Linked DNA regions of Homo sapiens. The protein of the gene in region 2 purifies or fractionates together with the protein of the main gene of each other region. This does not show direct contact. Each region holds a gene or a part of one and is shown on either strand. Other genes may lie near its edges.

The links. The genes of interacting proteins can lie anywhere in the genome.
Region 1: the proteins of ZNF436 (region 2) and ECT2L purify together in Homo sapiens (affinity purification with mass spectrometry; one large-scale study listed by BioGRID and IntAct). This does not show direct contact.

Annotation. Positions count from the first base shown.
Region 1 is NC_000006.12:138,841,030-138,844,684, forward strand, and holds part of ECT2L (epithelial cell-transforming sequence 2 oncogene-like), read left to right. Parts: intron 1-1,949; coding exon 1,950-2,202; intron 2,203-3,382; coding exon 3,383-3,551; intron 3,552-3,655.
Region 2 is NC_000001.11:23,359,837-23,363,491, reverse strand, and holds part of ZNF436 (zinc finger protein 436), read left to right. Parts: intron 1-270; coding exon 271-1,523; 3' UTR 1,524-3,655. UniProt on the Homo sapiens protein: May be a transcriptional repressor.

The sequences.
Region 1 (3,655 bases), on a different chromosome or scaffold from region 2:
TTCTAATCTGATCTTAAACCCATCCATTGAGTTCTAAATTTCAGTTACTGTATATTTTCAGTTCTAGAATATTGATTTAATTCTTTTGCCAAAATTTTCTACCTAGTCATTTATTTTAGATATATTAATTATAGAGTATTTATTTCCGCAAAGTTCATGTCTGATGATTACAATATTTGGATCACCTGAGGATCTCTCTATAGTTATTAAAAACCAAAAAGAAAAAAGAATTCTTGTCTATTGTGTGTTCTAGTTAATTTTCATTGAGTACCAGATACTGAGTATACAAAATTAATGTGATCCTTTGAGTCTCTGGGTGATGTTTTCTTCCTCCAGAGAGAATTTACTTTTGCTTCTGGCACGTCTAGTGCTAGGAACAAATCCTACAAATCCAGTCAAGGAATGAGATGTTTCAAAGCTGGCTTCAGTCTTTGTGAGAGTTTGTCTAATTAAGTATTATCCTTCCTGAAAAGAATCTTAACTGAAAGCTGGTGTGATTACCAAGCCTCTCCCGTCTTAGTGGGCCCTAAATTTCCATTTGTGTCCTTTCTTCCCTGTGAGAATGCCTAAGATTCTTTTTTAGCATCTAAGTCTTTTAGTCATAACTTTCTGTTCTGCTTCTCAGCCTAACAAGCTTTGCTTTGGAACTGACAAATGCCTTGAAGTAAAAAGTGATGCCAAATATCAGGCTTACCTCTCTGGGTTTCCCTTCTTTCTGGGGTCTTGGTTGAACAAGTCCTTATTGCATTGATAGCTCTATAATATAGCCTTCAAATAATTGTTTGTATAATATTTGGTCTAGGTATTTCATCAGTTCAAACCACATGAAATTTTCTCTTGTCGTATGTCAAAATGGCTGAATATTGGCAATATCGTACGCTTCAGTCAAAATTATTCTCAATGAGAGGGTTAATCTGAAAGAAACTATTCCACTATTGCTAGAAGCTGAATTCTCAGAATCTAGGGTTAACGTAACCAAATGCTATTGGAACATTGGATAAGTGTCACAAAGATGTCTAATACATACATTCACATATAACATATATATTCATCAAATAATATTTTTCCTGTGGAACAAGATACGCTTCTTATTTCCAAGTCAAGTTCAGATAGTAAGTCAGTAATAGCATTTAAAAACGTTATATCTGGCCAGGTGCAGTGGCTTACACCTGTAATCCCAGCACTTTGGGAGGCTGAAGCGGGAGGATCACCTGAAGTCAGGAGTTCCAGACCGGCCTGGCCAACAGGGCAAAACCCCGCCTCTAGTAAAAATACACAAAAACTAGGTGGGCATGGTGGCATGCGCCTGTAATCCCAGCTACTCAGGAGGCTGAGGCAAGAGAATTGCTTGAACCCAGAAGGCAGAGGTTGTAGTGAGCTGAGATCGCGCCACTGCACTCCAGCCTGGGCGACAGAGCAGGACTCCATCTCAAAAAAAAAACATAGAAATAAAAATAAAAGTCCGGGTGCGGTGGTTCACACCTGTAATCCCAGCACTTTGGGAGGCCAAGGTGGGCGGATCACGAGGTCAGGAGATGGAGACCATCCTGGCTAACACGGTGAAACCTCGTCTCTACTAAAAAAACAAAAAAATTAGCCAGGCGTGGTGGCGGGTGCCTGTAGTCCCAGCTACTCTGGAGGCTGAGGCAGGAGAATGGCATGAACCCGGGAGGCGGAGCTTGCAATGAGCCGAGCTCGTGCCACTGCACTCCAGCCTGGGCGACAGAGTGAGACTCTGTCTCAAAATAAGTAAAATAAAATATAAAAAAAATTAAAACTTTCAATTTTATATAAACATTGTAGAAACAAATGGATTTGCATACAAATTCTCAGAGATTTTTGTACCAGAAATCTCAGTGTAATGAAAAAGTATCTGTGTACCTGAAAATATTATTGCTAGAAAACTGTCTGAAAACAATTTGTGACTCATCTTCCTCTTGTTTCTGAAGGATTGCTTATGGATGCCCAAATGCGTTAAGTTCGGATGGTTTCTGCCCTATACTCCAACAGATAATGAGTATGGTGCTTGGAAGCGCCATTACATTGCTTGTGTGTCCCACTTAGACTGGCTGACACCTAGGGAGGCTGCTGCTACTTATGGGACGCTGAATGAACCCAAAACAGAAGATGAGGAACTACTGGAGAGACAAAGAGAAAAGTGCCTGAGGAAAAGAATTTGGGAGAAAATTGCACTACGTAAGAGTAAGTAGCATTTTAAACCTTTATATCTTAGGTAAATATTGTAGACACAAATGGATTCACATACAAATTCCCACAGAGGACAGCCCTGTCTTTCGGAATACTCTGAGTGGCAGTCTTAAGTATTTTCCAGATGAGCTTTTTTCCGTACTGTATATTTCAAGTTAATTGATGAGAAAAACAAAGATTTCAGACAAAATACATAAGGTTAAATATCAGTGCTTCCATTGCTATTCTGGCTCCTCTCAGGCTTATAAGACCAAAAACAAAGAGGATAAAGATGTTTGAACATGGGGAAAAAAGCAAACAAATAGGTTCAAAACAGAGGAATTGGGAGTGATGAAAAGAGGAGGAGAAATGCAAGTGAAAATGGAAGCAGGGAAAATGGCATTTAAAAAGGGAGAAAGAGGACAGCTCTTTCCGCTCTTTTTAAAGCCTCTTTCAGTTAAGCCCCCTATTTATTTATTTATTTATTTTATTTTTGAGACAGGGTCTCACTGTCACCCAGGCTGTGCAGTAGTATGATCTCTGGCTCACTGCAGCCTCGATTTCTGAGGCTCAAGTGATCCTCCCACCTCAGCCTCCTGAGTAGCTGGGGCCACAGGTGCACACCACCATGCCTTGCTAATTTTTTGTATTTTTGTAGAGATGGGGTTTCTCCATGTTGGCCAGGCTGGTCCCGAATTCCTGGGCTCAAGTGACCCGCCCACCCTGGCCTCCCAAGGTGCTGGGATTACAGGCAGAGCCACGGCGCCCAGCCTCAGCTAGGCCTTATGCTTTATGCAGTGTGTAAAAGAAAACAGCAAAACTGATTAGAGTTCTCCCATGTTTTCTTCCCACTAACCCTCTGGTGAGATCGTGACAAATAAGAAATTGCTTGAAGGCAAGAAGAAGGGCACAAATGAATGTGACACCTATCAATTGATTAACTGGTCCCCACTAGAAAAGGGTTGCTTGTTTGCTTGTTCTCTGAGCTTTGTTTCTTGACCTGAAATGACCGGTAGCTCACAGCCACAGTGCCAAGAGGATGAGAAATCCAAACCGAGTGCATGAAAATGGCTGTAATTATTGTCATTTGGAACCTTGCCCTGGTACAGCTTTATTTTTGATGCCTTTATCTGTGTGGACTTGGCTGGGAGAAGTATGAAGTAATCAGCCCCGCCTGCTGTTCTTTGTTTTTCAGAGGAGTTATTCAAAGTTCGACCCCCTTGGGTGAGTGGAACTTGCTGCTCTAGCGTGCTAAAGCCCAGATGCCAACCACGCCTCTCCCAGACTGTAAGGGAGCGAGTGGGATTACATGAAGCTTTGGAGAAACAGCTTGTTTTGACATCGTTAGAAACCTTGCCCAAGCGGTAAGCAAAATTCCATCTACTGAAGGCTCAACACCATCCCAATACCAATAATTCACTCTAGAATAAATTTAGCTATCACGCAGAAATCTTGTGTAATTCTGTGG
Region 2 (3,655 bases):
TATAGTGAAACCCTGTGTCTACTAAAAATAAAAAAATTAGCCGGGCATGGTGGCGTGCACCTGTAGTCCCAGCTACTCAGGAGGCTGAGACAGGAGAATTGCTTGAACCCAGGAGGCAGAGGTTGCAGTGAGCCAAGATCACACCACTGCACTCCAGCCAAGGCAACACAGTGAGACTCTGTCTAAAAAAAAAAAAAATTTAGTATAGTGCCTGGCACACAATAGGTAATTTTTGTACTTACTAGTCTTATTGTTTACTTTTTATTACAGATTTTGAGATCAGGAGTGAGAACGAGGTAAATCCCAAGCAAGAGATTAGTGAAGATGTACAATTTGGGACTACATCTGAAAGACCTGCTGAGAATGCTGAGGAAAATCCTGAAAGTGAAGAGGGCTTTGAAAGCGGAGATAGGTCAGAAAGACAATGGGGAGATTTAACAGCAGAAGAGTGGGTAAGCTATCCTCTCCAACCAGTCACTGATCTACTTGTCCACAAAGAAGTCCACACAGGCATCCGCTATCATATATGTTCTCATTGTGGAAAGGCCTTCAGTCAGATCTCAGACCTTAATCGACATCAGAAGACCCACACTGGAGACAGACCCTATAAATGTTATGAATGTGGAAAAGGCTTCAGTCGCAGCTCACACCTTATTCAGCATCAAAGAACACATACTGGGGAGAGGCCTTATGACTGTAACGAGTGTGGGAAAAGTTTTGGAAGAAGTTCTCACCTGATTCAGCATCAGACAATCCACACTGGAGAGAAGCCTCACAAATGTAATGAGTGTGGAAAAAGTTTCTGCCGTCTCTCTCACCTAATCCAACACCAAAGGACCCACAGTGGTGAGAAACCCTATGAGTGTGAGGAGTGTGGGAAAAGCTTCAGCCGGAGCTCTCACCTAGCTCAGCACCAGAGGACCCACACGGGTGAGAAACCTTATGAATGTAACGAATGTGGCCGAGGCTTCAGTGAGAGATCTGATCTCATCAAACACTATCGAGTCCACACAGGGGAGAGGCCCTACAAGTGTGATGAGTGTGGGAAGAATTTCAGTCAGAACTCCGACCTTGTGCGTCATCGCAGAGCCCACACGGGAGAGAAGCCATACCACTGTAACGAATGTGGGGAAAATTTCAGCCGCATCTCACACTTGGTTCAGCACCAGAGAACTCACACTGGAGAGAAGCCATATGAATGCAATGCTTGTGGGAAAAGCTTCAGCCGGAGCTCTCATCTCATCACACACCAGAAAATTCACACTGGAGAGAAGCCTTATGAGTGTAATGAGTGTTGGCGAAGCTTTGGTGAAAGGTCAGATCTAATTAAACATCAGAGAACCCACACAGGGGAGAAGCCCTACGAGTGTGTGCAGTGTGGGAAAGGTTTCACCCAGAGCTCCAACCTCATCACACATCAAAGAGTTCACACGGGAGAGAAACCTTATGAATGTACCGAATGTGAGAAGAGTTTCAGCAGGAGCTCAGCTCTTATTAAACATAAGAGAGTTCATACGGACTAAGCTGTAATTATGATGGCTGAGAAATGATTCATTTGAAGATACAATTTTATTTGATATCAATGAACGCCCTCAAGACTGAGCTGCTTTTATCATACTCTCCTAGTTGTGGGCCACGATTTAAACCATCAGAGATGACAAGCCATTTGAAATTCTGACCCTCAGCTTTGGGAATGTTATCTCCTCCAAAATGGTGATTTTTATTCACTCAATGGGTTACTTCATTAAAAGCAGCCCCACAAGTAACTGGAAATCTGAAGACCAGGGGACAAATGCTGGTGAATGCTTAGGCCTGGAAATGGAGTAAATCTTTCAATGTTATTTTCTCCCATCCTTGGCCCAAGGAACTATGCTAAGTGAAACGTGGGACTGTAATAGGGTGGTAATGGCTGCTTTGGAAAAAGGCAACTAGAGACTCTGCCTAAATTGCCACACCTATTCACACACCATAGTAGTTGGGCACACACATCTTCCCTTCCAAAGGGCTTTTTCCTTGAGTTGCTCATGCATTTGTATCTTTTCCATCTTCCTGAGGGCAAGATTTTGCACGATGAAGGCAATGATTGTAACTTTTCTCCTTCTCATTGTTTCTAATTAGCTCCTTTAAAGCTTGCATCTTTGTGAAGGCTAACTGAAGATACGGTTGGAAAGGAAAAATGAGACACAGGTTTGGGGACCAAGGACCCATCAATGATGGTGACTTTAGCAGAAGATGCCCACAGTTATTACTGCCATTAATCAGATTTATGAATTTTCTTTGGGGATCACTATAGGGAATATTGTATAGAAAATATCTTCAAGAAAAGATAGGACCATCAGTGACAGTTAAGTGTAAGGAGCAAGTGGAATTGAGTCCTTCAGGGAAGGAACCACAGAGTCCCTTCCCAAGGAATGTAGGTCGTTTCTGTGTTCTTTCCCTTCTAATCTTTAAGATCAACTCTTCCTATCCTGCTAACTCTAAGATTTGATAAGGGCCACATCCCAGTGTTTATCTTAGCTTGCATCAGGGCATGTGTATGTACAGTAATGTGTATTCCTGTGGTTTTTCTAATAGAAACTGAATTTACAGAGACTTAGCATGTTCTTGGGTGATGTGAGTCATGTGACAGAAGTACAGACATAACTCCAATGTGAGAAATGTCCTTTTTTCATTATGGAAAATAATTTAAACACTAGTGCTTTAGTGTGCACTCTCCTGTAAGGTCTGTCTTTGTACAGAGCTAAGCACTTGTTTGTATGTGTTTGTCAATTGTGGAAGATAATGACCAGACAAATAGGTCGATTGTCCTATTCTCAGAATGAATTATCTTCTATGGTAATGAAGAACTCTTTGGCTTAGTCAGAAGGAATTAACGAACCTCGGTAGGAATGTATTTCCATCCTCCCACCCTACAGATATAAGAGGTTAAAATAACAGTTCGCCCAATTTAAGCCCAGTAGTGTCAGTTTTCCTAATCTCAGTCCAGGTAGGAATTAAGAAATATCTCAAGTGTTGATGCTATCCAAGCATGTTGGGGTGGAAGGGAATTGGTGCCCAGAAAATGGGACTGGAGTGAGGAATATCTTTTCTTTTGAGAGTACCCCCAGTTTATTTCTACTGTGCTTTATTGCTACTGTTCTTTATTGTGAATGTTGTAACATTTTAAAAATGTTTTGCCATAGCTTTTTAGGACTTGGTGTTAAAGGAGCCAGTGGTCTCTCTGGGTGGGTACTATAATGAGTTATTGTGACCCACAGCTGTGTGGGACCACATCACTTGTTAATAACACAACCTTTAAAGTAACCCATCTTCCAGGGGGGTTCCTTCATGTTGCCACTCCTTTTTAAGGACAAACTCAGGCAAGGAGCATGTTTTTTTGTTATTTACAAAATCTAGCAGACTGTGGGTATCCATATTTTAATTGTCGGGTGACACATGTTCTTGGTAACTAAACTCAAATATGTCTTTTCTCATATATGTTGCTGATGGTTTTAATAAATGTCAAAGTTCTCCTGTTGCTTCTGTGAGCCACTATGGGTATCAGCTTGGGAGTGGCCATAGATGACCGCATTTCCATGACCTAACTGTATTTCACCCCCTTTTCCTTCCCTACTGTTCTTGCCCCACCCCAACCAGTTCCTGCTGCTGCTTTTGG